Homo sapiens: one gene and its partners. Changing the gene in region 1 together with any one later gene gives a genetic interaction. Each region holds a gene or a part of one and is shown in the gene's direction. Other genes may lie near its edges. The genes, in order: SMAD2, SNW1 and STRAP.

What was found.
Region 2: of SMAD2 (region 1) and SNW1, changing one enhances a phenotype caused by changing the other (phenotypic enhancement), as found in Homo sapiens cells (one study listed by BioGRID).
Region 3: of SMAD2 (region 1) and STRAP, changing one suppresses a phenotype caused by changing the other (phenotypic suppression), as found in Homo sapiens cells (one study listed by BioGRID).

Annotation. Positions count from the first base shown.
Region 1 is NC_000018.10:47,862,877-47,873,903, reverse strand, and holds part of SMAD2 (mothers against decapentaplegic homolog 2), read left to right. Parts: intron 1-3,339; coding exon 3,340-3,429; intron 3,430-4,467; coding exon 4,468-4,661; intron 4,662-5,446; coding exon 5,447-5,581; intron 5,582-8,770; coding exon 8,771-8,845; intron 8,846-9,802; coding exon of another isoform or gene 9,803-9,864; exon of another isoform or gene 9,865-11,027. UniProt on the Homo sapiens protein: Receptor-regulated SMAD (R-SMAD) that is an intracellular signal transducer and transcriptional modulator activated by TGF-beta (transforming growth factor) and activin type 1 receptor kinases.
Region 2 is NC_000014.9:77,714,935-77,725,019, reverse strand, and holds the end of SNW1 (SNW domain-containing protein 1), read left to right. Parts: intron 1-1,742; coding exon 1,743-1,839; intron 1,840-4,191; coding exon 4,192-4,309; intron 4,310-6,489; coding exon 6,490-6,653; coding exon of another isoform or gene 6,654-6,733; coding exon 6,734-6,932; coding exon of another isoform or gene 6,933-6,957; 3' UTR 6,958-7,421; downstream 7,422-10,085. Other genes in the region: SLIRP (SRA stem-loop-interacting RNA-binding protein, mitochondrial isoform 1 precursor), read right to left, coding at 7,459-7,524, 9,141-9,248. UniProt on the Homo sapiens protein: Involved in pre-mRNA splicing as component of the spliceosome. As a component of the minor spliceosome, involved in the splicing of U12-type introns in pre-mRNAs.
Region 3 is NC_000012.12:15,888,588-15,899,614, forward strand, and holds part of STRAP (serine-threonine kinase receptor-associated protein), read left to right. Parts: intron 1-1,340; coding exon 1,341-1,422; intron 1,423-2,009; coding exon 2,010-2,082; intron 2,083-5,459; coding exon 5,460-5,556; intron 5,557-6,771; coding exon 6,772-6,909; intron 6,910-9,294; coding exon 9,295-9,431; intron 9,432-11,027. UniProt on the Homo sapiens protein: The SMN complex catalyzes the assembly of small nuclear ribonucleoproteins (snRNPs), the building blocks of the spliceosome, and thereby plays an important role in the splicing of cellular pre-mRNAs.

The DNA of each region.
Region 1 (11,027 bases):
ATTCTAGGTCAGTAAAACTGCAGTTTTCTAAAAACAACCCCCCTGCAGTGTTCTGTTTGAATTCTAGTTGCCCTGCCTAGCTGTGGCTGGGGAGTGCCCTTGGGTACACAGCCACAGAAATGCAGCTCTCATCCAGTACAGTTTGCAGCTTTGACAGTTGGACCTCCCTTCAGCTTTTGTCTGTTTTTGATCTGTGTCTGCTATTTTCAAATAGTTGATTATTTTGTTCAGAGTTTATCATTGTTATATGAAGGAAAGTTAGCCTAATTGAGGCTGCTCTGCCATTACTGGAATTAGAACCTCCATTCTGTTTTGTGTATTCTTTTACTAATTGCATACTGTTTTAATTATTGAGAATTTATTATGTGCTTCAGAATCTGGTAGGACAGGTCTTTACTATTTGTTAGAATTTTCTGGTCATACTTATTTGTTTTGGCTTATTACAGTATTTGGACTAATACCTGGATTTTTAAAACATTTATTTTTATTGAGATTGCATCAAATATATAAATTTGGTAGAGTTAATACCTCTATGATGGTATCTTCCTGTGTAGGGACGTATGTTTTTCTTTTTTGCTCAGTGCACTTTTGTGTTCTTTAGTTATGTTTAAAATGTTTCTTTGTATAGTTTGACACAGTTTTAATTACATTTATCTAGATGCTGCTTATACAACTCTCACTATCTAAGGGGGATTGGTTCTAGGATTTCCCACTCATACCAGAATTAGTGGATGCTCAAGTTCTGATAAAAAATGGCATTGTAAGCCTGGGCACGTTGACTTACTTCTGTAATCCCAGCATTTTGGGAGGCTGAGGTGAGAGGATCACTTGAGTCCAGGACTCAAGAGACTTTGTCTCTACAAAAAGTGTTAAAATTAGCCAATCGTGGTGACACACGCCTATAGTCCCAGCTACTCAGGAGGCTGAGGCTGGAGAACTACTTGAGGCTGGGAGGTCAAGGCCGCAGTAAGCCTTATTTTAAAAATAAAATGGCATTGTATTTGCATATAACCTATGCACATTTTCTCATACTTTAAATCGGCTGTTCCCAACCGTTTTGGCACCAGGAGACAGAGTCATGAAAGGCAAGTTTTCCACTGACCGTGGTGGTGCGGCAATGGTTTTGGGATAAAGACGTTCCACCTCAGTCATCAGGCATTAGTTAGATTCTCTTAAGGAGTGCCCAGCCTAAAGCCCTCGCATGTGCAGTTCACAATAGGGTTCTTGCTCCTATGAGAATCTAATGCCACTGCTGATCTTCCAGGAGGCAGAGCTCAGGTGGTAATGGTCTCTCCCCTGCTGCTCACCTTCTGCTGTGTGTCCTGGTTCCTAACAGGCCGTGGACCGGTATCAGTCTGTGGCCTCTGAGACTCCTGCTTTAAGTCATCTCTATATTATGCATAATATGTAATACATTGTAAATGCTGTGTAAATAGTTGTTATACCATATTGTTTTTAAATTTTGTATTTTTCAATTGTTGTATTTTTTAGTTTTAAAAATTTACTTATTTTTTCTACTTTTTGATCCACGGTTGGTTGAATCCAAGGATGTGGAACCCTTGGATACAGAGGGCTCTATGTTTTATTATAAATTGGCTTATTTTAAAAAATATTTTTTATTATGTAAACAGGCAATGATTTTACTAGCTAGAAGCAAATTTAATGTTTTAAAATAAACCTTCCAATTTTGTTAGGCATGATAATGATGGAACTGAGGCTTAAATATACCCTATGGCAGCAGTTGGAAAGTGGCCGAATTAGGGTTGGGGTCTAGATCTGTCTGCCTCTAGATTGATTGCAAGTTCTTAACAATTACTGTTTATTCTTCTCTGATTCCTTTCAAGGATTAAATAAAGTACAATGTAAACTTCATGCTCTATTTTAGATTCTGGTTCTCATGTGAGTCCCAGAATAACTTGAGTGAAATGTTCTGATACAGAGCAGAATAGCCTCTTGTGCTACACTTTTGTTAATTATTTTCAAAGAATAGTCTCCTGTATACCATTTCTTTAATAGACTCAGAAGTCTGTAGAATTGAGGTGATTCTGTTGTGATTTAAACTACATCATGCTATATGTTTCCAATAGATATTTGAAAATATCTTTTAAATAAACCATTAATGTCATGGTTTTTAAATCAGTATATCTTTGGAAAAAAGGGAAAGGTCTAAGCCTTAATTTACCTGGCTTTTTCTGGCTTTTATAGTCTGGTAAATTTTGCAGCCTGAAAAAGCAAGAGAATCTATAAAATACTTGAATGAGATGCTGGAAAATTTCAGAACAGGTTTTGTTTTGAACTGTCGGGTCACTGTAGCCCCCAAAGCAGGGCATGATGTGTTCCTGCAGCCTGATAGCTATGTGACAGCACCTGTAGTACTAAAGCCAAGGATGCCAGGTGGTTCTGTTGCCTGGCCACAGGAAGCCAGCGCTTCTCACCATTGCCCTTTGAACTGTTGATCCAGTTAAGCTCACTAACAATGTGTAAATATGAAATTTAATCAATTGCTTGATTCATTTTCAAAAGATGTTTTGAAATACTCCTTTATCCGCATTGAAGTTTTGATGATTTTGTAATATGTAAGAAATGGACTTTTCAGAAAAGTACAACTTAGTACTTGAGACATTGGCTGTCAAAGTTCCATTCCAAAACTTCCTTTTAAGCTCTCTTTCCCTTCTCTCACTGACCAGAAGTTACTATGAAATGAAATAAAGGTAGGGAAAAAGGGAGAATTATCTCTGAGCTGCCCATATTCTGGAGAGAAATGTGGGAGAAAATTTTTAAGGTGGTATACTAAATTAGAATGACTTCAAAGTCTATTTCTTTATTTATTCTAGAGATGAGAACAAAATAATTTTCAGTAAAACTTAAAAATATCATGACCAGATAACCTGAAAATCTTAACTGTGGATGCATGTCTATTTTTATTGGGATTTTTTTCTATATTAAAAATCAGTTGACATCTGTTTTTAGATAATTTTTTAAAAAACTGGATTATAAAATGAAGCACTTAGTAAAGCTGATGGCAGAGGTTTTAGATCTTTTGAATACAGGAAAGTGGTAAGGGCATTATAGGTATGATTCATTGAGCTAGAGGGCGTTGGTGTTCACATTTTAAAAACATAATCATGACTTATCTGGAGTCACATGTTCCATTTTATTGGCTTCCTTCATATAGAAAATATAGTAACCAGCACTACATGCCTGTGAAAAAGTGAAGCAATTGTATATTTTCTGGGTGAAGGAAGTATTCTGTACATTCTCCATGTTTTACATCATGGTATTTTGAATAACCATGCTTCCATGTTCACATCAATTTTTTGTTTTTCAATTTATGCACAGCACTTGCTCTGAAATTTGGGGACTGAGTACACCAAATACGATAGATCAGTGGGATACAACAGGCCTTTACAGCTTCTCTGAACAAACCAGGTGAATATTCTGCCCTCTGTCGAATCTTAGAGATCTTGTGGGAGGGGGGTATATTTTGAAAGACCTATATGGGGTTGCTTAGTATAATTTTGCCTAGGATGTTTCCTTAATGTAAAATAAGGCATAGCATTTAAAATATCTGCTTGCCAGTATAAAAAATATATTAAATGTTTCAGCTGATGTTTTAATCAATGCAATTCTAGTTTGAATCTTCTTTAAATTACTGTATCCCCTAAAGAATAATAATTTTGATAACTATATATTTATTTTAGCTTGAGATCAGATTATAATCTGTTGTTGGCCTAATTTTTAAGTAGATACATGATGAGTTTTGCTAAATTTCTTGTTATCAGAATCTCATCTTTATACTAATAAATACATACTTAATGAACCCCTTATATCACAATTAACAGTAGGTTAACTCATTTTTATGTTACTTTTTTTAATCACTTCATTTTCTTTTTTGCGTATATGGTATTTGTTCATTTCATCTCATCATATTCATCACCATCCACATTTATTTGTGAACTACATAAATATACCTCAGTTCTCAAAACAGTCACAACTGGGTAAAGAGTTGCAGTAGTCTGAGGAAGTTACTATCACATCATTGTTGGTATTTATCATTCTTCACACTAGTTCCTTTTCTGACTCTTCAGTCACCTCCAGAATTAATATCCTTAGAAGCATCTCTAAAATGAGTTTGATTTACTAAACATAGAAGTTGACAAAGTTTTTCAAGTATAACTGCATAAACTCTCTTTTTTAAAAAATCAGTTTTTCCCAAGTTGTTAGCCTTTCATTGGCATTTGAGTCATTTATGTGACATATTTATAAGAAACATCTGCTAGTGCTGCTGCATACTTTTATCAGATCCATTAAATAGTACATTTTTGTTCTTGATTCTCACTAAAACTAACTAAATGGCTGTCATTCTTTTCTTTATGCTTTTATTGTACTAATTTAGCCCATTTGACTGCACTTTTTTTTTTTTTTTTTTAAAGTTCCCTCCTTTCTTTTCCCCTTGCTTCCCAACAGGTCTCTTGATGGTCGTCTCCAGGTATCCCATCGAAAAGGATTGCCACATGTTATATATTGCCGATTATGGCGCTGGCCTGATCTTCACAGTCATCATGAACTCAAGGCAATTGAAAACTGCGAATATGCTTTTAATCTTAAAAAGGATGAAGTATGTGTAAACCCTTACCACTATCAGAGAGTTGAGACACCAGGTAGGAATATTGCAAGTTTTTTTCTTGGTTTTGAATTAAATGCCTGAACTTCAGTATATTTAAGTACTCTTGTGACCCAGGAAAATTTTAGTGTAAATTCTAATAAATTACCTTAAATTGTGCATATTATTTGGTGGTAATTAAAATTTTTTTATTTTTAAAAATTTTTAATGAGAAAACATATCTGTTTCTTGGAATAGCATATGATTTGGCATGAAAGTGCATATCCAGGAAATCCTGTAGATTGGCAGTCTGCTCAGCGCTATGCTGATGTGCTTCTACATGTCCCTGCTGCAGTAACATTTTCAAGCATTTTGCACTTGGAGTGCTTTTAGAAGTACTTTAATGACATCATTTGTATGTACACCGTTTAGTAAAGCTTGTAACAAGACTTTTCATTTAGTTAGCTGTCTACCTGAAACTATTAAAAAATATAGCAGTAGCTGCGTTTTTGGAAAATTTCCTATATCTGATTTTACAGATAAAGACAATGTTAAGTTTTCCAATGGGGATTTATGAACTTTTATGGTAATATAATATTACCAGGATCACATTGTTCCCAAAAGTTTGAGATAAATTAGAACTTGGAAATTTGGATAATAGACTACCTAAGTTAGAGCCATAATCAGATTTGTCATTTTCTCAGTAACTAGTATATATCGAGTAGGTGGACCCTAGCTTTAAAAATTAAGCTACAACTTCTCTTCTTGTTGAAAACTTTAAAAAAGGTTCCCCCACTCCCCTTTGCTCTTTGCCATTAACTTGGATTTCTTGAACTTTTTCAGTTTTGCCTCCAGTATTAGTGCCCCGACACACCGAGATCCTAACAGAACTTCCGCCTCTGGATGACTATACTCACTCCATTCCAGAAAACACTAACTTCCCAGCAGGAATTGAGCCACAGAGTAATTATATTCCAGGTATTTTTGCCTTCTGAATCTCCTAAAACTTGGATAGATACAAATTTTGTTCATAAGCATTCAAGTTTTAGTAAATTGTGGTTTCACTTTTTTAAAAATGCTTTTGAGTTTTTAATAGAAAAATTGGATTCGTTGGGTGATTATTTTGTGAAATGTATAAGCCTAGTACATTAAACAGTTTTGTTTGGAGAAGAGTTTTACTTTATATTTCATTTTCTTTTGCAGTGACTTTAATCAAAGTACTGTGAGAAGCAGAAAAGAAAAGATCTTAGTAAGTTTGTCTTAGTTGTTGAAGCTAAGCGAGATGCAGAATGTAAGCAAAACAAATGGTGTAGGAGAAAAGTACCCCCCAAACACATGTAACTGAATATCCACCCAATGATCACTTTTTCTTAGATAACTTGGTAATATTTAACAGAAATATAACATTTCTATAAGAAATATAATACTTAGTTCTATAGACATAGCAACACTTACATATTATAACACGAACGTCAGAAAACCTCCTTTAATTATGTTTCGTCTGCATCTCAGTAATTTCTGATGAAAATTGAATTCAGCTACATGGTTCTCAAATTTTGTTCTGATGTATTATGTGATCCAGTAATACTCCACGATATGATATCTGGCCTTTTCGTTTTTTATGGTTTCTTTTTTTTTTTTTTGGAGAACAACTAATACTTTGTTACTTTTCTTGTATGTTTTCCTTTTTGTTTGGTTGATTTTTCTCCCTAGCAGAAACAGCATGATGTTAGGATGAGGATTAAGCTGTAGTGTCTCGATTTCTTTCTTCCTTTTGTAATATTCTTTTATTCCACTCTTATTTTATACACTAAAAATATGTAAGGAACTTAAGAGCATTTACAAAATTCTTAAAATACAGTTTTAGTACATTTAAACAATTATTTCTTTCATGTATCCATCATGGAAATAATGCTTATTCATTGAAGATAATTTTTTAAATGTAAGGAAGAAAAAAAAGAAAAGATAACTAAGAAAGATAAGTTTTTTTTTTAAATAGCTGGTTTTACAAATGGGAAGTGGTTTTTGATTGTTTTAATGTATATTTCTTTGATTACTGTTTTATTCCAGAAGAGGATTTAAAGCTGCTTTATGGGTTGCTAGGAAATACAAACTTACTGAAGTTAAGAGAGGGAGAGGGTGGGATGTAGTATGATAACACTAGGAGGAGGGAAAACCCGGGACTATGAAACAGGGCAATTGCTAGGTAGAAAAGGGAGTGGAGTTGTGTGAACGTTGGTGTGGGGAAGGGGAGGCATTTTAAGTCGTTAGTGTGGGAATTACTGTTATTCAGCCAGCAATACTAACCTTAGGTATAAACATGCAGTCTTAGGGACAACACGCATATCCAGTAATTATTTGGAAGGCTATTCACCAGAATGTTTAGTGGCTTTCACTTGTGAAGATGTTTGGGCTCATTTTTCCTTTCTTTTTTATTCCTTTAATTATTGAGATTTGAGTATTTTATAAAGTAGAAAATCAGAAGTGGATTATACCCATTTGCTTTTCTGGACAGTGGGGCTTTATCCGGTTTCAAGCAACAGCAAAACCAAAGGGTTCACATTTTATTCCACTTAAAAGAAATTTTAACATTTTCTCAAAAATGCTAATAGCTTTATTATTTATTACAATAATGGAAAAAATAAACACAGTAAGATAACGTATTTTAAGGTTCAGCATTTCTTTCTGATTAGATCTTTGAAATACAGGTTAAACTCAAAAAGCTTAGCGCCGTTTAACTTTATTAGCTTTAACTTTTAAAATATGCATAATATGTACCCTTATTTTTATGTTCTTTGAGTATATGAAGATAATTTATTCTTAGAATTTTTGTTTTAAAAATTTGGGGGTACTGACACTTAAATGAAAAGTTTGATACTTAAAGTTTGTGGTTAGTTTATTGAATAGATATTGTAAAAGGTTATTGAAGGAGACCCTTAACCTGTATCTTCTCTTCCTCTTTTTTTTTTTTTTTTTTTTTTTTTGAGACGGTGTTTTGCTCTTGTTGCCCAGGCTGGAGTACAATGGTGTGATCTCGGCTCACCGCAGCCTCCACCTCCTGGGTTCAAATGATTCTCCTGCCTCAGCCTCCCTAGTAACTGGAATTATAGGGATGCACCACCATGCCCGGCTAATTTTGTGTTTTTAGTAGAGATGGGGTTTCTCCATGTTTGTCAGGCTGGTCTCGAACTCCCCACCTCAGGTGATCTGCCTGCCTCGGCCTCCCAAAGTGCTGGGATTACAGGCATAAGCCACCGCGCCTGGCCTCGTTCTTTTGATAATTTTAAAATTGTTTGGATATGTGTCTTTGTTATCTTGAATCGCTCAAAACTGTTCAGTGTAAATGTAAAACTGATGAAAGTCTTCTGAACTTATTTTTCCTCCCTGGAATTACAGTTGATTAAATTGTATACATGTTTTTATTTTACATGCAGTTTATTCAGCTATTCAGATACCTTTCTGAACATAAGTGTTTTATTCAGACAACATGTTGGAAATAATATATTAGAATCCTAATGGTTATTTTCAGGGAGCATTTTACCTCTTTATACAGTAGTCTATATTTGAATTGAATTTTCTGCTTCAAACACTTAGACTTTACCAGTTAGGAATCCTTGGAGAAACACACTTTTTAGATAGAATTCAGCCTGGACCAATCCGGAACCATACTCTACCATATTTTACCCTATAGAACTTAGTGTAAGTTGTAAGCCTGTATTATTTAATACTTTTATAATCCAAAATCTTGTGTGTTTTTTAATTTTCTAAGTACTCATAAAATAACGATGTTCATTAGATTAAACAACAACAACAAAAAATTGTAGTTACTGATGGTTTTGCAGCCTACTGATTCAGATCTGAGGCATTTTTAAAGTTACGTTTTTGGCTCTTGCCCCAGAATATGTACATATAGGAATGAGCAAGATACGTACATAATGTGTATGTCCAGAGAGTAGGATTTTATTAAAAGTGGATGTTAAGGATTCACTGCAAAATTTGGACAAGATCCTGAATTATACACCCTCAGTATGCAATATTACTTTTTATAATATTATATAACATTATTATTTGTTATTTGGAGTGATTCATTGGTTATCTCTGGTAGCTGAGAGAAAAGGTAGTGAGATTATGTTGCAGCTGTGCTTGATTTGTTTTAAACTTTTGTAGAAACGCCACCTCCTGGATATATCAGTGAAGATGGAGAAACAAGTGACCAACAGTTGAATCAAAGTATGGACACAGGTAAAAAAAATGTCTTTGAAAATTCCTCAGTTATTAGATATACATTTCTTGTATTGTTTGAAATTCACAAAAGATGTTACTCTTAAATTTAGAGAAGTTGAGACGCATACCAAAAAAGATGATCTTCTATCTTGATTTAACATATCTGAACTACCAAAGAGGTCCATGTTGTCACTGAAAAATTATAACGTATGCTACTCTGCAGAATAATTGTTATTTTTTATTAGAGTAAATGAAAATTTGAAAACATGCACATACTTTTATTTCTTTTTAAGTATTTGCTTCTGTTGAAAATTTTAGTAACCCTATGACTAAGTATCTCTCTGTGATAAAAAACCATAATTACTCAAATAACAGATTTTCAGAGGAATTTGGGGGTGAAGGATGGGGATCAGCTTTTCACTGCTTTTTTAACCTAATAGTGAGTTTTGAATTATAGTAGATTAATTTCTTATGCTTAGCTATCAACTCCAAAAAGTGATGAAGAAAAAAATTAAAGCTTTAAATCACGTCTTACGTAATAAAATGTATAACTCAGCAGAACTAATAAACTACCAGTGAAATCACTTTGATGTCATTGTAATTGTCCAGTTTGATTCATTTTACCTGTCTGTATCTTAACTGTTGGACACCTTAATATCACAACCTGACAAATTATACCATCAGTCTTTCTCCACATCTTAACACTAATGCATTCTTGGTTATGATAATCTAAATTATTTTTAAGTGGATTAACATTGGTGGGGGAGGGAGGGGTTACAATAATTCTCTTGTTTAAATCCGTTTTTTTGGACTCCCAGGTAAAGAAGTTTCTGCTGTAGCTAATCATACATTTGGGTGTTTAGGAGTACCAGATAACTAAGAAAGGTAGATAATCTAATGAACGTTGGAAATAACGTGTTATACATCTTAATGCAAATAATATTTGACTTTCCACATATGTTTTACTAAAATTAGATGACACTCTTCTTGAAGCAATAATATTCTTTTTTGCCTGTGATGGACAGCTGTTACTGTGACATTTAAAAGTGAATGATGGGAAAAGATACTGAACGTCATAAACCACAGTGAGATACTACCTCACACCTACTAGATGCTATAATCAAAAAAGGACAATAACAAATGTTGGTGAGGATGTGGAGAAATTGGAGTCCTCATATATCGCTAGTAGGAATGTTAAATGGTTCAACACTTTGGAAAAGTTTCCTGTTCCTCAAAAAGTTAAATACAGAGTTAACATATTGTGGCCAGCTATGTATCCAAGTGAACTGAAAACATGTCTACTCAAAAACTTGTACATGACCATTTATGCAGGCATTATTCTTAATATTCAAAGTTAGAAACAACTCAGATGTCCATCAAATGATGAATGGATGAATAAAATGAGGTATGTTTCTGCAATGGAATTATTCAACCATGTAAAGGAATGACAGTATAGCATGACGTGTGGCAACATGGATGGACCTTGAAAGCAGTATGTTAAGTGAAATAAGCCAGAAAAAAAAGGCTGCAGGGATTCTAATTTAGTGCACAGACACCTATTCAGCAATATAACTGAAACACAGGAGGAGCAATAATACAAGTATTCGTTATGTATGATAAATGAATCAAAGTACAAAAGTGGAGAATAAGCTGAATCAGCCAGCTAAAATAATTGCAGTGTTGGGGCTAACTTTGAACCCAACCTAATATTTCTGTTTCAGTGGAGCAGTGTTACTGGCTTTCTGAATGACAGGTTTAAAAATTACTGTATGGCAATGGGAATATGTGATTCATGAGATGCCAACAGTTAGTTTGGCTGCCAGCCTCTTACCCAATATCAGTTTCTCTCTTGGGGCCATGGCAAGAAACAATTCTGACTGATGCAGGGCTCCAATTTAGAACAAAGTTGGCCACCTCTCTAACTCTGGTTCATACCTTCCAGAAGGAAGGACATAATTAAATTCATCTTTCATAACCTGCTGTTAAAAATAATGAATTGAAATTTTTTAAAAGGGCAACCAGAGGATAAATTAGGCATAATAAGTAAGTGTACGAACAAGCACTTGTTACTTTTTTCTTTTTTTTTTTGATTTAGATTTTGCTGGTCAAGACTTTATTCTTCCTTTATAGTGGATATTAGAGATCAGGCTGGACATCGTAAGAAATTTATAAGTTCGATTAACCTTTGTAGTATTGTATA
Region 2 (10,085 bases), on another chromosome or scaffold:
GCAATAATAGATGCTGGCGAGGATACAGAAGGGGGGGAACACTAGTACATTTTTAGTAAGAATATAAATTAGTACAGCCACTATGGAAAACAGTATGGCAGTTCTTCAAAAAACTGAAAATAGAGCCACTACGTGATCCAGCAATTCACTGCTGGGTATATATCCAAAAGGAAATCAGTATATCAAATCAAAAAGGGATATCTGCACTTCCATGTTTATTGCAGTGCTCTTTACAGTTACCAAGATACGGAATCAAGTTGTGTCCAGTGGGTGAATGGATAAAGAAAATGTGGTCTATATACACAATGGGATATTACTCAGCCATAAAAAAGAATGAAATCATGTAATTTGCAACAATATGGATGGAACTGAAGGTTATTAAGTGAATAAGCCCGGCACAGAAAAACGAATACTGAATCTTCCCACTTGTATGTGGGAGCTAAAAAAGTTGGTCTCAAGGAAGCAGAGAGTAGAATGGTGGTTACCAGTGGTTGGGAAGGATGTTGGGGACAGGGAATGAAGAGAGATTGGTTGATGGTACAGAAATACAGTTAGAAAGAGTAAGTTCTAATGTTCCTAGTACAGTGGGGTGAATAGTTAGTGATAATTTATTGTATATTGCAAAATAGCTAGAAGAGAAGAATAGTTAATGATAATTTATTGTATATTGCAAAATAGCTAGAAGATTTAGAATGTTCCCAACACAAACAAATGTTTGAGGTGATGGATATCCTAATTACCCTGATTTGATTATTACACATTTTGTTCATGTATCAAATATATATACCCCATAAATATGTATAATGATTATATATCAAAAATAAATTTTAAAAGCAATTAACATTGATAAATTTGCTTTATCACATATTTGCCCATCTTTCTGTCCATCTGTCTGTCCGATTTACTGCATTGCATTTCAAAGTAAGTTGAAGACAGCAATACATTTTACCCTTAAATATTTTAGCCGCATGCTTGATTCTAGAATTCACATTCAAAAATTAAACTAATATCATTTATTAGACTTAAATTAATTGCAAGTAAGGTTTAAAAGGCTGAGTGTGACTACAAAGAAGTTTGGAATTTTCTAAGGTTAAAAAATATTCTCTTGTTCAGAATATTGGCTGGGTGCGGCAGATCACTTGAGGTCAGGAGTTTGAGACTAGCTTGGTGAAACTCCATCTCTACTAAAAATAAAAAATTAGCCCGGCATGGTGGTGCACACCTGTAATCCCAGCTACTTGGGAGGCTGAGGCAGGAGAATCGCTTGAACCCGGGAGGCAGAGGTTGCGGTGAGCTGAGATCGCGCCACTGCATTCCAGCCTGGGCAGCAAGAGCGAAACTCCGTCTCAAAACAAACAAAATACTAATGGGGCTGAGTGCAGTGGCTCACACCTGTGACTCCAGCACTTTGGGAGGCCTAGGTGGGAAGATCACTAGAGCCTGGAGTTTGAGACCAGCCTCGACAACATAAGTGGGACCCCATCTTTACAAAAAATTTAAAAATTAGCCAGGCATGGTGGCACACATCTGTGGTCCCAGGTACTCGGGAGGATGAGGCAGGAGGATCACTTGAATCCAGGAGGTAGTGGCTGCAGTGAACCATGTTCATGCTACTACACTCCAGCCTGGGTGACAGAGTGAGATGCTGTCTCTTTTTAAAAAATTATATATATACACACGTGTACACGTATGCACACATATAATACATATTACAGTGAAGTACTTTTCAACTGTTCACACAGAGGATGGGGAGGCACGTGAGAGGGATGAAATCCGGCATGACAGGCGAAAAGAGAGACAGCATGACCGGAATCTTTCCAGGGCAGCTCCTGATAAGAGGTAGGTGTTATTTAAGATGTGTACCAATCATGGTGGCCGGGCGCAGTGGTTCACCCCTGTAATCCCAGCACTTTGGGAGGCCAATGCGGGCGGATCACGAGGTCAGGAGATCGAGACCATCCTGGCTAACACGATGAAACCCTGTGTCTACTAAAAGTACAAAAAATTAGCCGGGCATGGTCGTGGCAGGCGCCTGTAGTCCCAGCTACTTGGCAGGCTGAGGCAGGAGAATGGCGTGAACCCGGGAGGTGGAGCTTGCAGTGAGCCGAGATCACGCCACTGCATTCCAGCCTGGGCGACAGAGCGAGACTCCATCTCACAAAAAAAAAAAAAAAAAAAAAAGATATGTACCAATCATGAAGAGTGGCCTTTTTGTACCTTTTAGAGCAGAGTTTTAGTCCACTAAGATCAGTTTTGCTTCTCTCCCTTTCTTCTTTAGTTTGATAACTTAATAAATTAGCACTTAATTTTCTTGTACTTAACTACTTTGTCTTAGCTCTAGTTGACTGTCTTTGGAATTAATCTTCCATCACTTAAGTCAGAATTGAGAATGATGGGAATATAGAAAACGGAATCGAGATCAGATTTTTGAAAAGGATGTAGTAGTAAATTTGGACTGTTATAGTCCGTTCTTTTTCTACCTCAAATGGTGAGATAAATGGATTATGTGCCTCTTTAGACAGGAAATAAGCTTTCATGCTTTTATTGAGATCATTTTATATGCATAGTACTGCATCTAGTACAATTGAGGAGAAGAGCAGTTTTGAAAGAAGTAGAAAATCAGCTCATTTTTAGGAGTAGTTTAACTTACAGTTCAGAAAGACAGAGCTATCCATAAAATAATTTGAGAAAATTTGCAAAGCACTCTTAGTAAGTATAAACGTATAGAACAAACTAAATATATATATGAGGGCATAGAGTAAAGTAGGAATTGGGGAAGTTTATGGCTCACCAAAGGCTGAGGACTAAAAGTTCTGAAAAGTAGAGGGAACGCTGCAATACTAAGGTGGAATTCTGAGTGAGGGTTAAATGCAAATATAGAATATTTTCTTCCCAAATGAACAGTTTTCTGTGCTCTGATCATCCCATGAGCCTAATACATTTTTCAAGTCATATTTTAAACACAAAAAAGAGGCCGGGCACAGTGGCTGACACCTGTAATCCCAGCACTTTGGCAGGCCAAAGCACGCGAATCACTTGAGGTCAGGAGTTCAAGACCAGCCTGGCCAACATGGTGAAACCCCATCTCTACTAAAAATGCAAAAATTAGCTGGGTGTGGTGGCACATGCCGGTAGTCCCAGCTACTCGAGAGGCCGAAGTGGGAGAATCACTTGAACCCTGGAGGCGGAGGTTTCAGGGAGCCAAGATCGTGCCACTGCATTCCAGCCTGGGCGACAGAGTGAGACTCCGTGTCATAAAAAATAAAAAATAAAAAAATAAAAATAAATAAGCATGAAAAAGATTCCTGCTGGTATTAATTGGCATATTTCATCTCCCTGGATAAATGATGTCATGGAGAAGCAAAGACTCTTACTCTTGAGAGTTGAGGGTAAAGTACATGTAGAAGGAGGAGCAAAGTGTGAAAGTGTTTAATTAATGACAGTCTTGGTTAGTAATTCCTAAGTTGTAAAAGTTACAATGGCTCTGTGGATAAATTGGGCCCTCAAAACGAGTAAAGTGGCTATCAGAATTGACAACATAGAAAAGCTGTGAAATTGTAACTGGATGAAAATCAAACAGCCTATAGAAATCATTTTGTGACCTGAGTTTTTAGTAAAACAAGTAATGACAGTTACCATGGTTTCATTGGGATGTAGGTTGCATATATAATGCAACAGCCAGGAAACCAAATTAATCTGAATGTCAAAAATCATACTAATTCAGTCATTGACATGTTTTCCTCAAAATTCTAGTGGGATAAAATTACTAAATGTGGTTAGATAAAAGAGCTGTTTCTAGCTTATTTAAAATGTTTCGTGTGCTACATCTAAATTGTATCCACTTCCCCAACCCCCAAACCATCATATAATGATAGTAAATATAGACCATAGCAATTTTATATCTCAGCATGGTTGTAAGGTGATTGCTTATATTAAAGAATTCCATGTCAACGAATCTGTTAGATGTTCTTTTGAGCTAACAGGACGTCCTAATTGTAAAACTCTCCCTCTAATCTGAAATGCTTTATAAGGGCTGCCAGCTTGATTATGTATCATCAAGGAATATATGTTCACAAGATGTGAATGTGACATATTCACATCCTTTGTTTCTGAGATTGGTTGTATTTCTATTGAACATATTCAGCTTGTCTATAAAGAGTTTTCAGTTAGTGATGTCGTATTTCAAAATAGGTCGAAACTTCAGAGAAATGAAAATCGGGATATCAGTGAAGTTATTGCTCTCGGTGTTCCTAATCCTCGGACTTCCAATGAAGTTCAGTATGACCAAAGGCTCTTCAACCAATCCAAGGTACAAGTTTAGGAACAGCATATTGTGTGTGTTGATGTGAATACCTATCCTCAGGGAAACGAAAATTAACATACTTTACATTTGGATGTAAATGCCAGCATGATGACAAAAAAATTGGAAGTTGTATGTTGAAACTTGAGACAAGATGAAACAGTTCTGATTTTAACTTCTTATAGTGGGCTGAGATTTGAGACACTAGGAGAAGAAAGAAATTAGGTGATTAAAAACTTGGTGTTGTGGTATGTCAACCTTTTGTTTCTAAAATAGAACCAGGGAGGCCAGGCATGGTGGCTTTTGCCTGTAATCCCAACACATTTGGAGGCCGAAGCGGGCAGATCACCTGAGGTCAGGAGTTCACAACCAGCCTGGCCAACATGGTGAAACCCCATCTCTACTAAAAATACGAAAACTAGCCAGGTGTGGTGGTGCACGCCTGTAATCCCCACTACTTGGGAGGCTGAGGCACGAGAATTGCTTGGTGAGCCAAGATTGTGCCACTGCACTCTAGCCTGGGTGACTGAGACTCTATCTCAAAAAAATAAAAGAGTCAGTGTCCTACAAAAGTGCCTCTTGGGTTTTTTTGTTGTTGATTTTTGGATTTTTCTTTTAATGCTATAGAAATATATCAATTTGGGATTCTTTTAAAAATGAAGCTGTAAAACGGGATTAAAGTACTAGGCTGGCTGTCAGGAAATCTGATTTCTAGTACCAATTGCCATTAGCTAACTAGGACACTTTAAGCCTGGGAAAACACACGCGGGCGCATGCGCACACACAAGAATACAGAAGTGTAAGTTCTACTGGAAAGTAGAGTGGGAAACTTAATTATGACTTGGAGGTTTTAAGTAAGCTCTTCTAAGTGATAATTTATTAGATGCATTTTATATTCTTGGCATTGTTCTAAGTCTTGTTATTATCTCAATTCTTACAAAAATCCTATGAAATAATACTATTATCTCTTATGTTATAGATGAGGAAATTGAAACACAGGTTTAGCTTGTGACTGATGGAATTAAGATTCAAACTGGGTGTCTTGATTTCAAAGTTTTTTTTGTTTGTTTTTGTTTTCTGATATGGAGTCCCACTCTGTCGCCCAGGCTGGAGTGCAGTGGTGCCATCTCGGCTCACTGCAACCTCCACCTCCCAGGTTCAAGGGATTCTCCTGCCTCAGCCTCCTGAGTAGCTGGGATTATCACAGGGCATGTGCCACCATGCCAGGCTAATTTTTGTATCCTTAGTAGAGACAGGGTTTCATCACGTTGGGTCAAGCGGGTCTTGAACTCCTGACCTCGTGATCCTCCTGCCTTGGCCTCCCAAAGTGCTGGGATTACAGGCGTGAGCCACTGTGCCCAGCCAATTTCAAAGCTTTCTTAACCACTATACAATGGCAACTTACCAGCTGAGCAAAGGGATCTAGGGGTGAAATTTCACGTAAGTAAATATTTTCAAGATAATCACCTGTTAGAAGCTTAAGCTTAAAACATTTAAAAATTGTGATGAAAATATTTCTGGCTGGGCACTGTGGCTCACGCCTGTAATCCTAACACTTTGTGAGACCTAGGCAGGCAGATTGCTTGAACCCAGTTTAAGACCGGCCTGGGCAATATGGCAAAACCCTGTCTACAAAAAATTAGCTGGACATGGTGGCACACACCTGTACTCCCAGCTACTTGGGAGGCTGAGGTGGGAGGAACACCTGAGCACAGGGAGGTCACAGCTCCAGTGAGCTATGTAGCACTTTGTGAGACCAAGGCAGGCGATCACCTGAGGTCAGGGGTTCAGGACCAGCCTGGCCAACATGGTGAAACTCTGTCTCTACTAAAAATACAAAAATTAGCTGGGTGTGGTGGCACATGCCTGTAATCCCAGCTACCTGGGAGGCGGAGGCAGGAGGATCACTGGAACTGGGAGGCGGTGGCTGCAGTGAGCCAAGATCACACCACTGCACTCCAGCCTGGGTGACAGAGTGAGACTCTGTCTGAAAAAAAAAAAAAAAAGAATCCAAAGTTGTTATGAAGTTCATGTGCTACCAGTTTTTTAATGAAGACTTTTTAATTTGCAGTTCAGATTGTTGAAAATGTGAGCTGTACATTAGCAAGGGTTTACTGTAAACATGTTATGATTCAGCTTTTGATAAACAATGTTTACACTTTTATTTAATGTCATCCATTTTTCCACAGGGTATGGACAGTGGATTTGCAGGTGGAGAAGATGAAATTTATAATGTTTATGATCAAGCCTGGAGAGGTGGTAAAGATATGGCCCAGAGTATTTATAGGCCCAGTAAAAATCTGGACAAGGACATGTATGGTGATGACCTAGAAGCCAGAATAAAGACCAACAGGTGCCAAGCCATACAACTCAATTTCAGTGTTTACACTGGTGAAAGCAAAGTAGTTCATAGTTTTTTCTCCTTTTCCTTAGATTTGTTCCCGACAAGGAGTTTTCTGGTTCAGACCGTAGACAGAGAGGCCGAGAAGGACCAGTGCAGTTTGAGGAAGATCCTTTTGGTTTGGACAAGTTTTTGGAAGAAGCCAAACAGCATGGTGGCTCTAAAAGACCCTCAGATAGCAGCCGCCCCAAGGAACACGAGCATGAAGGCAAGAAGAGGAGGAAGGAATAGGCACAGGTCTCTCCAAAGTGAATGAACTCTTACCCATAACCCTAATGATGCAAGTCATATGGGGGAACACTTTGTAAATGGTCAGGATAAAAACCAAATCTGGGTGCCAGATCCCAGCACTACTTTTTATTACTGGAGAAATGGGGGGGATAGAAAATTCTACTTTGAATTATTTAGTTTTTTTTAAAGAGTGGGTTGTGTTTGTGCTTCTCCCACCTTTCAGCATTTATAGAACATGCTGCCCCACATACAAAGTCAAGACCACTTACTTTTATGTGACACTAGTAGTTTGGGGTTAATGTTTTGTGTAAGAACAGCTGCATATGAGTAAAGTTACCCCAACCACAGTGAGGAGGAAGATGTTCACATACTGGAACTGTCCTGCCAAATAAATTTTGCCCCTATTGTGCTCTGTTTTAATTTGGAGTGGGCAAAGTAACCTCTTGCTTGGTGCAACTATTTGTTTCAAATAAAAACATTTAGACAAAATTCTCAGTTATGTTAACTTTATTAATAGGCTGCAGTCTCAAAAATCTTTCTTTTCATCATCAGATGTTTGCGGAAGTTTTGGCCTTCTAGTGTGAACCTGGACCTTAAAAAAATAAGCACTGTAAGGGAGGAAAGGCAATGTCTGCAAAAACATTCAAACTGAAAATCACTTTATTAGGGAGTCAGTATGAATAATGAATAACCCAGGCAGTTTTTATTTGTCCCTTGTTCTTTCGTTTTCTCCTCAAATTCCTTTTACCATCTTTGTTGGTATTATGACTCCCTAACCCTCAATTAAAAATTGTAAATCAGACCAGGGGCAGTGGCTCAGGCCTGTAATGCCAGCATTTTGGCAAGCTGAGGCAAGAGGATTGCTTGAGGCCAGGAGTTCAACACCACCCTGCAACATAGCAAGGCCCTGTCTCATTAAAACTAAAATTTAAAATAAAATAGTAAATCAGTTTGGCCCAGGATCACATGGTGGGTAAGCCAAGATTTCAGCCCCAGCTTGCCTGACCTGAAAAGCAGACTGCTGGCCAGGCGCTGTGGCTCACGCCTGTAATCCCAGCACTTTGGGAGGCCGAGGTGGGCGGATTGCCTGAGGTCAGGAGTTTGAGACCAGCCTGACCAACATGATGAAACCCAATCTCTACTAAAAATACAAAAAAAATTAGCAGTGCGTGGTGGCGCATGCCTGTAATCCCAGCTACTCGGGAGGTTGAGGCAGGAGAATCGCTTGAACCCAGGAGGCGGAGGTTGCAGTGATCCAAGATTGCACCATTGCACTCTAGCCTGGGCAACAAGAGCAAGACTCTCAAAAAGAAAAAAGAAAAGTAGACTGTTATGTCCACTGTGTTACATATCTTGCTACCCATTAAAGGGTCATCTTGTACTTTCCTGGACCTTTTAAAACTGGGCACTCTACCACCCCCCATTTTTTTTTTTTTTTTTTTTTTGAGATGGAGTTTTGCTCTTGTTGCCCAGGCTGGAGTGCAATGGCGCGATTTTAGTTCACTGCAACCTCTGTCTCTTGGGTTCTCCTGCCTCAGTCTCCTGAGTAGCTGGGACTACAGGCATGTGCCACCACGCCCATCTAATTTTTTTTGTATTTTTAGTAGAGATGGGGTTTCTCCATGTTGGTCAGGCTGGTCTCAAACTCCTGACCTCTGGTGATCCCCCCCGCCTCGGCCTCCCAAAGTGCTGGGATTATAGGCATGAACCACTGCGCCTGGCCTACCACCGCACCATTCTTTTTTTGTTGTTGTTTTGTTTGTTTGTTTGTTTGAGATGGAGTCTCGCTATCGCCCAGGCTGGAGTGCAGTGGCGCAATCTCGGCTCACTGCAGGCTCCACCCCCTGGGGTTCACGCCATTCTCCTGCCTCAGCCTCCCGAGTAGCTGGGACTACAGGCGCCCGCCACCTTGCCAGGCTAATTTTTTGTATTTTTAGTAGAGACGGGGTTTCACCGTGTTAGCCAGGATGGTCTCGATCTCCTGACCTTGTGATCCGCCCGCCTCGGCCTCCCAAAGTGCTGGGATTACAGGCGTGAGCCACCGTGCCCAGCCTCCACCCCACCATTCTTAACAAGCATTAAGGCAGCTTCAGTTACAAATCTCTCCAAGTCCCCATCATTCCACATTTATGATCTATTTAATTGATACATAATTAAATAGTACCTACATGTATATCATGTATGTATCTGGCATAGAAATAAATTTACCTTTACTCCATCTATAATATGATTTTCCTGTTGTAGTGCATTCCGAAGTCCTTCTTCTGAAGAAAACTGAACCCAACCCAAACCTCTGTGAAAGCCAGTCTCCTTGTCCTAAAAATTCAAAATATAGGAAAAGATTAATCATGAACTTCAGAAAGTTTCCATGAGTTCCAAATCAAACTACCAACTTTTTCATCTGCCAAAAATCGGACTTTTTAATTTAATTTTATTTTATTTTTAGGCAGGGTCTTGCTCTGTCACCCAGGCTGGGGTGCAGTGGTATGAACGCAACTCACTGCAGCCTCAACTTCCTGGGTTCAAGCAATCCTCCCACCTCAGCCTCTTCAGTAGCTGGGATCACAGGTACATACCACCATGTCTGCCTCATTTTTTATATTTTTTGCAGAGATGGGGTCTTCCCATCTTACCCAGGCCGGTCTCAAACTCCTGGGCTCAAGCAATCTTCCCATCTGGGCCTCCCAAAGTAGTGAAATTACAGGCATAAGCCACCATGCCCAGCCAAAAATCGGATCACAGACATTTATAAGTGTCAGTAACCTTGCTTTACACCCTTCCTGATTACCCAAGGCTAAATCCCTGTGTTGTTAAGCTTCCTGTTTTCCTTGCTGCCATTAGAGAAGATACGGGTCATGAGCTTTCTGTGTCATTCTAGATGCAAACCATACTAACAGTAATAGCTAAGGGAAATTTTGATCAGTACTCTTGTTCTAAGCTTCGTTTCTAGAAACTAGAAAATTAAGCCTCAAAGCCTTGTTGCACTCATTTCTGAATCCAGTCACCCTCACCACCACCACGACTATCATCACGTGTTCCTAATGAAAAACAAGAAAAGATAATATTTAGCCCTTACTCAACCTAGTTACAGACTTCTGGTTAATTTAAACAATTTTGCTATTTTCCCTTGTGCAAAAGTTTCAACCTATACAT
Region 3 (11,027 bases), on another chromosome or scaffold:
ATTGCACATGCTATTAATGCTTATCTAGAATAGCCTTCCCTTCTTTTTCCCCTGATATATTTCTCTTTGCTTCTTCCGACGGCTAGCTCTGTTACTTACATTTTCTGGACAATATCTAGGTGCTTTTTTCTGAGTTTTTATAGCCATATATATGTCTTTTAATTATATTTCTTAAATGTGATATTTAATGCATGTTTTTCTCCTCAGCTAAAGCTCTACTATGGCAAGAACCTACTGTGGGGTATTTTTTGTCTCCCATTTGTGCCTTAGCACTAAGTATAGAATGATATATATTTAATATATTTTATTATGTATTGGGGTAAGCAAAAGAAAAGATACATCTTGCTTTTCTCTGATTTTTTTCCCTCTACCATTTTATTGCCCACTGTGTTCCTGAAAATAAATAGCAGTTGCATTAAAATGGAAATCTCTATGGAACATAGCTTTTTCACTCTTAGCAATTCTTTTCCCTGTCTGCAAAGTTTTCTTGTTTATTTTTCACTGACCTGTTCTGATCTAAAATCAACTTTTTTTTCCCCCTTCCTTAAGCTTTTTTATTTGGGGGAACCCTTTTAGAGTAATTTTGTAAAGTATTGCTCAACTATTACCCGCCCAGAATATACATACACATATAAATGTATGTATACCTATAACCAACTTGTATTTTGGGGTGGGGTGGGACAGAAAAAACAATGTAAAGATTAAAATAGTCAGTGTTAGCATTATATAATCAAAGGCTGATAGTTTGGGGGAAGTTAACTGTACTAGAGTTTGAAATTTTAAGTCAGCTTTGAAGAAGAGATGAAGTGGACATTGTCTCTCCACTATCTTAATTTAAAATTTTACTTAGCCTGTACCAAGGCTTTTCATTCCCTTGTAACATTTTTAAGGATTTCTGGTTTTTTTATTTATTTTTATTTTTTATTGTGCATCTGAGTGGAGAATAGAGAAAAAATTGGCATGGTGAAACTAAAAATTGGTTAAAATGTATGACAGGCTTGCTAAAGGGATATTATGGCTGTCAGCTAAAATAAAAGTAAGGAGGATGGGTTGGTTCATGAATCTTACTTGCTTAAATTGTTCATATCTTTTCCACTGTCAAAGAAAATTAGATTGGTTATAAAGTTTTTACAGAGAAATTTCTTTTCCCTTAAGCTTATTTAAATATTTTATCAAATGAAGTCTGTGAGGGATATTAGAGATAAAGGAGATTTATAATACATTTATGTAACATTTCACATATCTAACTTATTTGGTACTCATCAATATTATAATTGTATTTATCCTTTTAATATATTGGGTAATATTTATCCTACTAATTTTCTCTTTTTTACTTTTAGCAAAGTGTGGGATGCTGTCTCAGGAGATGAATTGATGACCCTGGCTCATAAACACATTGTCAAGACTGTGGATTTCACGCAGGTATCAGAAAATGGAATTTATTTTAGCGAGTTAAGTTGCTGGTACATAGTGTGATAATGCTTTTATACTTGATTGGTGTGTATATTTGATTGATATGTTTTGTGTGGAATATTTGTTATTTCTTGGTTCATATTTGATTTGATTGTGTATTAAGCTCTATGAATTTGTTTCATAGTTAATCCTGTCAAGCTTTTAAGATACTGTGGAACGAGTACCAGTCCTTCAACATGTAAAAAACATCTGAAAAGCTCAAGTAGCCTTCCCCAACTACTAATAGAAGGGAGAAGATAAATTTGAGATAATCAGAAAAGGGCCTCTCACAAGGGAGAGGAGTAGGATCAGGGGAGAATGGGAGAGTTCATGTATATGTAGTGTAGTGTAACGCTTTTGAAGTGGAAAGCTTACAAGTCTTGGCAGTTATGAGAGGTCAGCTGTTCCACAGTATCTTCTCAGAAGTAATTGGTTATGTCTTGGCATCTCTTTGTGATGTCTGTGAGCTAGATTTTGATTTTATTTGGTGTTGAAATTTGAAAGAGAAATAACTATTAAAATGGTTAATCTATTCACATTTTACTTTGTGTTTTCAGGATAGTAATTATTTGTTAACCGGGGGACAGGATAAACTGTTACGCATATATGACTTGAACAAACCTGAAGCAGGTAAGCATAATTTAAACATCAGCTTCTAGTTTTATTTTCTTTTAATTTAAATAACTGATTAAAGAATTTCATGCTCAGTACTCAAATTTGGAAAATAAAGATAGTCATGGCCGGGCACGGTGGCTCATACCTGTAATCCTAGCACTTTGGGAGACTGAGGCGGGTGGATCACTTGAGGTCAGGAGTTCGAGACCAGCCTGGCCAACATGGCAAAACCCCGTCTCTATTAAAAATAGAAAAATTAGCCAGGCATGGTGGCAGGCGCTTGTAATCCCAGCTACTTGGGAGGCTGAGGCAGGAGAATCGCTTGAACCCGGGAGGTGGAGGTTGCAGTGAGCCGAGATTGCGCCACTGCACTCCAGCCTGGGCAATAAGAGTGAAACTCAGTTTCAAAAAAAAAAAAATAGTCAACAAAGAAGAAAATTAAAACGTAATTCATCAGTTTTTGGTTTATAAACTTTCAGTCTTTTTTTCTGCACAGTTTTTAAAAAATAAGTTTATTTGCTATGTTGCTATTGTATAACCTTCTTCCAAACTGAAAATTTATTATGGCAAATTTTTATCATTAAGTTTTAAAACAGTGCAGAACAGTGTTACTATTTTTTGGTAAGAAAGATTGGTTATTTATAGAAGTTGGTGATGGTGAGAATTCTCAGTTGTGTGCACATATTGCTTAGATTTTTGAACCATGTAAATATATTAGCTATTCGAAAGAATTTTAAAAAATCTGCAGTTACAGTTTTTTCATTTCACTAAATAGTCTATGAACTGTTTGTAATGACTTTCTGGTTTTCCATCCTGTGGTTATATCATAAGTGAATTAACTAGTTTCCTGTTTTGGCCCGTTTGGGCTACTTACAGATTTTAAATATGAAAAGCAGTATTATGCTAAACATCCTTACAGTTGCAAATATTTTCACAATGATTTCCTTAAGATAACTAAGCAAAAGTAGAATTGGTGGGACAAAGAGGAGTGGAATTGTTGGAAGGTGGCCGGGCGCAGTGGCTCACGCCTGTAATCCCAGTGCTTTGGGAGGCCAAGGTGAGTGGATCACCTGAGGTCAGGAGTTCAATACCAGCCTGGCCAACATGGTGAAACCCCATCTCTACTAAAAGTACAAAAAAATTAGCTGGGCATGGTGGCAGGCGCCTGTAATTCCCAGGTACTCAGGAGGGTGAGGCAGGAGAATCGCTTGAACCCGGGAGGTAGAGGTTGCAGTGAGCCGAGATTGCATACCAGCCTGGGGGACAAGAGCAAAACTCCTTCTCAAAAAGAAAAAAAAAAAATGAATTGTTGGAAGCCATTGATAGATACTACCAAAGTGTCTTCCAACAAAGTATGGGTATATATGTATGTATCTATACCCAACATGTTCTAGTGAGCACTGATAACTAACTTTCTCTTTGTCAATTTAAGAAAATAATTCTGTTGTATTAATGTGAATATTCATGAGATTAAAATGCTATTGAATACCATTTTAATATATTCCCTTTTTTATGGAATAATTGCCTGTCTACCTTTTGTCCATTTATCTGTTGTGTTATTCATGTTTTTCTTACTGGTTTTTAAAGGTTCTTTATTGAATTCTAATTTATCATTTGCTTTTAAATTTTGTTAAGGTGGTTTTATGGTATATATGTTTTTAACATTTTGGTGGTGAAATTCTTTATGCATTCTCTCATTTTACAGAAGTTATAGGTGTCTTCCCCAGTCTACATGTTTATTTTATAATATTTTAATAATTTCCCTCACCATATATATACTTAGCTACCAAAACATGACAAACATAATTTTGTTTTATTATATATTTGGTATCTTTCAGATTTTATTATGTGGACATTTATGTAGTCATAAATCTATAAAATTTTAAAGAGTAATAAGAGAGTCAGAACCACATTGGAAATTAAGCGGTTATTCTCTTGAGATACCTTCCATTTCTGAGAACTTTTTAAAATATTTTACATTTTAATGTTACAGTAATTTGTTATGAAAACATTTTTAAGGTGAGGAAACAAAGCGCATTTGCAGATTTTTTTATTCTCCATTGCATGTAGAAGTTTTTTTCTCCTTTCTTTTTTGATAAATCTATGCCAAAACATAGCAAAGGACTCTGACCTCACTTCTTCTATGAACCCATTCAACAAAGCAAGGTAGTTCAGGGATTGGGTCAAAGCAAGGTAGTTCAGGGATTGGGTTGACATTTTTCATGCTCTTTACCTTTCCCAAAGCTGTTTTATGAAAGTTGCTCTTTCGCTGTGCTGGCAGCAGAAAATAAAATGAGGTTTTACTGTGTATCGGGTATCTGTTAAGCCCTATTCGCATTTGTAACCATTGTTATCTCATTTTACAGATGAGGAAATAAAGTTAAAAAGTTAAGTAACATGCCCAAAGGTGAAAATAGTGTTGAATGGCATTGCCTCCAGTGTCTGCTTTTGCCCCTAGAGACAGCAGTGAGGGTTTTTTGAAGTTCTTCGAAAGGATAATCTCCTACAGATTTAAGCTCCCTTCCTTTTTTTTTATGTTTTCCTCACAGTGTAGAAACATTCTTGGGAATTGCTGTCCCACTTTCTATTTCCCTTTTTTCCTTCCAACCCTTATTTCTCATTATTTACTATCAATAGCTGCTTGGATAAACGTCCCAGAGTTAGCCATAGTACTGCAATCAGATTCAACTGTTTTGTTCCTGAGTCCGTGTTCTTATTAAATTATGCCACGTTAATTATTTTATTAATAATATAATAAATACTTTTTATTATATATAAAATACTTTTTATTTATTATACATATAATAAATATATACTTTTTATTATATATAAAATTCTTTTTATTATACATATAATAAATATATACTTTTTATTTATTATACAATAATGCTTTTATATTTATTATACTTATACAATTATACAATAATGCTTTTATATTATACAATAATATTTGTATTATTGTACAAATAAATATTGTATATTATACAATAATGCTTTTATATTTATTATACTTATACAATTATACAATAATGCTTTTATATTTATTATACATATAATAAATATAAAATACTTTTTATTTATTATACAATAATGCTTTTGAATATTATCAGTTGTGCAGAAATTTAGCCTAGAGGGAGTGAGTGGTGCATTCACTCAGCTACATATAGCAAGCATGGTAGTTCCTTGGGTCCCTGTCATGCAGATAAATTTATGTTCCAATATAGAAAAACTAACTGTATTCTATATAAACATCAAGTTTGAATTGGGCTGGGCTTTGAAAAGTTGCAGTCTAATTTAAAATGTGTGTTTTTAAAAATATATAATTGTTCCGATATTGTTCAGTTTAAAAAATCATATATTAACAAATGTACTTTAAATTGTTTTATCTCAAGAACCTAAGGAAATTAGTGGTCATACTTCTGGTATAAAAAAAGCTCTGTGGTGCAGTGAGGATAAACAGATTCTTTCTGCTGATGACAAAACTGTTCGGTAAGTAATTTTTCTTTAATAATTTACAATTTAAGGCCGGGCATGGTGGCTCACGCCTATAATCTCAGCACTTTGGGAGGCGAGCCGGGTGGATCATTAGAGGTCAGGAGTACTAGACCAGCCTGGCCGACATGGCGAAATACTGTCTCTATGAAAATTACAAAACTTAGCCAAGCGCGGTGGCACACACCTATAATCCCAGCTACTCGGGAGGCCGAGGCAGGAGAATCACTTGAACCTGCGAGGCAGAGGTTGCGGTGAGTCGAGATCGTGCCATTGCACTCTAGCCTGGGCGACAGAGCTAGACTGTCTCAAAAGAAAAACAAACTTAAAATTTGCAAAATATTTTACCTTAGAGCTTATATTTTAAATACATTTAATATTATGTGTGAAAAATGTTCTGAACATTAAAATTTAAGTTGCACCCAGGTCACATTTATCTGGAGCTATCTATTTACTAATACAGGTTGAGTATCCCTAACCTGAAAATCTGAAATTTGAAACGCTCTGAAATCTGAGACTTTGAGTGCCGACTTGATGCTTAAAGGAAATGCTCATTGGAGCATTTTGAATTTCCTATTTTCAGGTTAGGAATTCTCAGTTGGTAAGTGTCTAATGCAAATATTCCAAAATCCGAAAAAGTTTGAAATCCAACTTTTTTCTGGTCCCAAGTATTTTCAATTAAGGGATGCTCACCTTGTGTATACAGACAGCAAAATTCAGAAGAAAATTAAATTGCTGATACCTTATAAGCAGGTGTTTTTAACCTGGGTCTGTGGGCAGAATGGTTAAAGGGAGGGACCATGAAGCCTCTGAAATTCTATACAAAATCTTGTGTGCTGACACCTGATGTATATTTCTTTGGAAAGATGTGTAGCTATTACTAGATTCACAAAAACAGAGTGTAAGAACCACTATTTATAGCAATGCTGAAATTGACTAGATTAGAACTTGTCTTAATAATGTAGTTTTGCCAAATTGGGAAGTGTATGTAGGTATTAAAGTTGATTTTACTTACAAGCTATCATGCATAATTTGACATTGTATATAGAAACCCAGAATTTTTTTTAATCATCTGTAATTTGTGACTTGGAATGAATGTTGTTTTTCTGTAATTGTGATTGTTCTTTCGTTGGCTAATCTGCAGATGTAATTAGAATTTATAAACTTTTTTCTTACATGAGTAAACATCATATTTTTATCTTTATTTTGCAGACTTTGGGATCATGCTACTATGACAGAAGTGAAATCTCTAAATTTTAATATGTCTGTTAGTAGTATGGAATATATTCCTGAGGGAGAGATTTTGGTTATAACTTATGGACGATCTATTGCTTTTCATAGTGCAGTAAGGTATGTCCAAGAAATACTTTCATTTTCTTTTTTAGGTAACAAAAGACATTTTGGCTACTTAAAAATGGGAAGGTATTTACTTTTTTTAAAAGTAAAGAGGCCAGGAGTGGTGGCTTATGCCTATAATCGCAGTACCTTGGGAAGCTGAGGTGGGAGGATGGCTTGAGATCAGCCTGGGCAACACAGTGAGACCCCCATCTCTACAAAAAATAAAATTAGCTGGGTGTGGTGGCACACGCCTGTAGTCCAGCTGCTTGGGAGGCTGAGGTGAGTATTCTATTGCTGGAGCCTGGGAGGTTGAGGCTGCATTTTGCTGTGATCTTGACACTGCACTCCAGTCTGGATGACAAAGCAAAACCTCCTCTGAAAAAAAAAAAAAAAAAAAAGCAAAAACTACTGAAATGGTGCTGTCATTAATGTTTTTTACTATATAAAACCAGTGTGGGCTGGGCGTGGTGGCTCACGTCTGTAATCCTAGCACCTTGGGAGGCTGAGGTGGGCGGACCACTTGAGGTTAGGGGATTGAGACCAGCCTGGCCAACATGGTGAAACCCCGTCTCTAAAATAAAAATACAAAGAGAAGAAAAATTAGCTGGGTGTGGTGGTGAGTACCTGTAATCCCAGCTACTTGGGAGGCTGAGGCAGGAGAATTGCTTAATCCCAGGAGGTGGAGGTTGTTTTGAGCTGTGGTCACACCACTGCATTCCAGCCTGGGTAACAGAGTGAGACTCTGTCTCAAAAAAAACAAAAAACAAAAAAACAGTGTGATCTTGATTCTACTATTTATTTTCACCTTAAAGTTTTAGAGAAGGAATAATCTTATTTCTGTTCCTGAGTATTTGCAGACTTAATGAATTTTTTAAACAGATTTGAATTTTGCGACTTTAAATGTAGTAAATACTCTTGGAGAAAGACTGGAATATATAACATAATTGAAAAAAATGTACCCACAATATTATACCCATAGGTGCAAGAGTGATAATGGTAGTTATATTTTCTGCTAGTCCATTTTTCTATGTTATATATGTGGGTGTACAGTATTTGTGTTTTTTTTTTTAATTACTAGGACCATAATGAATACCATTTTGATTTGTTTAAAAATATTGTTAGCCATTTAAAACTTCTTTGAAAACATTTTTACTTGATACACTGTATTTGCATCATAGGTTGTACTAAATTATGGGTTAGTTTCCCTGTTTTAGCACCACGGTGAATGTTCTAGCACATCTCTGAGTGTTTCTTTACAGTAGATAGGATCCTGTAAGTAGAATTATCAGTTCAAAGGCTAGAAATGAGTTTAAAGTTCTTAGTTATACATGACACTTAATTGATTTCCATAAGGATTATACCACATTACACTTTGATATTTGACCAGTGTCTTAACCTTGTGTCTAAAGGGCTAACTGGGAGAAAGAAAAGGCGGTAAAATTGGAGGAGAGCAATTAAGCAATGTCAAGGAGTTTATACACATACAGTAAACTGATAGTAGTAGAATACTATGGCCTGGAGCCATCAATTGGTTTATTAATGCTCTTCACTCACTCCTGCAGTTAGGCAAATCCCATGTTGGTGGCAGAAATTTTCTGGACCATTGAATATTCTAGCATTTGAGCCAGCAAGTTGCTATGTAGTGATCCTGCATAAGTCATGACTAACTTTAATTAACATGCTTTAAAGTATATGATGATGGGAAGTATTTAGGAGCTGGGATACTATAATGTTTTGTATTGGAGGCCTTTCATGATTTTTAGGGTTAAACTGAAAAAGCTAATGTCCAAACTGTAATTGAATTTCAGATGAAGCTGTTATTATGCATTGATTTTTATTATATAACTATAGCCCCAAATTTTGTTAGTCTTTTACTGCCTTATAGTAGAAACTGTTTTCAGCAGTTTATATTTTATGACATAGAAAGTTTATCTTGCTGAGGAGCTTAAACCTTCAGCAATTAATAATAATATATAAATAATCCTTTATGTTAATTACCTACTGTGAAAACTTTTTCTGTTTACAAAGATAATATGTGGTTGTAGAAAAATGAAACAATACAGGTGAAGTTTATTTAAGAGCAAAAATCCCAGTGTATTATTCATACTGTTTTAATTAGCCAACACACTCATTTCCGGGAAGACATCCACTGCATAAACTGGATATCCCTCCATCAAGATGTCTTTGTATTGCTGAGATGAGCTCCACTTGGGCATAGTATCCATTTGATTTTTTTTTTTTTTTTTTTGCTAACAGCTTTTTTTACATCAGTGTTTATGTTTGAGTAAATGAGTATTTAATTGTTCCTTGGGTTTCAGAATTTAAGAACAGTTCAAATGTAACTCGTTATTTATACCATATTCAAGATTTGTAAATACTACTTAAATTTTTTTTCAGTTTGGACCCAATTAAATCCTTTGAAGCTCCTGCAACCATCAATTCTGCATCTCTTCATCCTGAGAAAGAATTTCTTGTTGCAGGCGGTGAAGATTTTAAACTTTATAAGTATGATTATAATAGTGGAGAAGAATTAGGTGAGTTGTCCCCTTACAGTGATGTGGTTACCTTTATCATATGTTAAGTCCCAGTAATTAACACCTCATTTATATATATATATATGTTACATATATATGTTGAAAGTAAATTTTTCAGCTAACTTAAGCTTGGTGCTTACAAGTGAAAAAGTAAAGGAGTTTTAACCATTTGGGTCAGATGCTTTTATAGATCTGTAAACAAAGTATGCAGAAATTTATCCTTTTAACTAAAGTTCATCATTATGCTGATGTTATGTATTATGGTACAGTGAGTTTTAGGCTTTATTGGCTGGGAGGGAGGGGGGAATCTTATGTCAAAGTCATATGCTAAACACATGCAAGGAGATCCGTTCTTTCTGAACTATGTTGTGGGTGTATAACCCCATCTACTTGGCCCGTCTTCCTTTTTGCCAACTTAGGAATTCCTAAGACTCCGTAAAGAACAGTGTGTGGGGGAAAAATCAGTATAGCATATTACAGGGATACCTTTAGGAATCTGAATTGGATAGTTATTTTTATCAGCTTTTTATTTATTCTGTTTTGGAGTTTGAGTTTTGCTTTCATTTTCATGATAACAGTCCTTAGTAAGGGAAAGGGAAAGGCATGGGGATTAATTTGAAGTTAATGTATATTTATCTGATGGACCAGGTATTTCACATAGTTACATGTGGTTCTCAGTATCTACTTTTAGCCTTTCCAAATAGTTTTTGCTTTTAGGTCAAAAATATGTTTAGTTTTTATAAATATATATTTTTATCTATAAGCTGTCTCTTCTTGTTCTTGTCTGTTTCTAGCTGCCCTGCTTTACCAAAGAACGAAGCTTGCTAGATTACACCCAAAGAACAAAAGACAATTTTACGTTTTGTTTCTTGGGGAACATTGATGCATCTGGGTTGCACAAATGGAACCTTGGTGATGGACCATGTAGAATCTATTTTAATTGCTTATGGTTCAGTTTTTATTACTTGAATACAAGTGATTTATAAATAAGATATTCTTTTCTGTTACTTTTATTTAATGCTAGTTTTCAAAGTTTTAGAATGTTTTTGGTTTCATATTTTATTCTTTTTCAAGATTGAGAGAACTGAATTATTTGCCCAAGATCTGAAGTCACAGTGAATACCAGATCTGCCTAGCCTTTCTCTTTCCAAAACCTTGTGTTCTTTGTACTCTTACAACTTTTCTATTCTCTGGTGGGACACAGATGGGAGACAGAATAGGAACATTGGTCTAGTAAAGGGCTTTGAGAACTAATAAGGTGATGAGGCATTAGAAAGTAAATGAGAAAGGTTCATACTTAAAGGTACTACTTGAATATAACAGTGCTCCTAATCTATACATTTTCTCATTAGGTTCCATGGATTAAAATATTTATGGATCATTGTTGATCTATATCTCACCTTTCTGTGTGACAGAATAATTAGTGGACTGTAGGAAATTAAGAGGCAAAGTGTGTAAAAGAGCTCCACCTGGTGGCTCTCTATAGTCATAATAAAAATTGATTCCCTGAGAAATAGGCAGTGAGTTTTAGGATATGGAAATTGGAGGTTGAACTGGTAAGACTTTAAATCTACTTTCTATAGAATTAATGGGGTT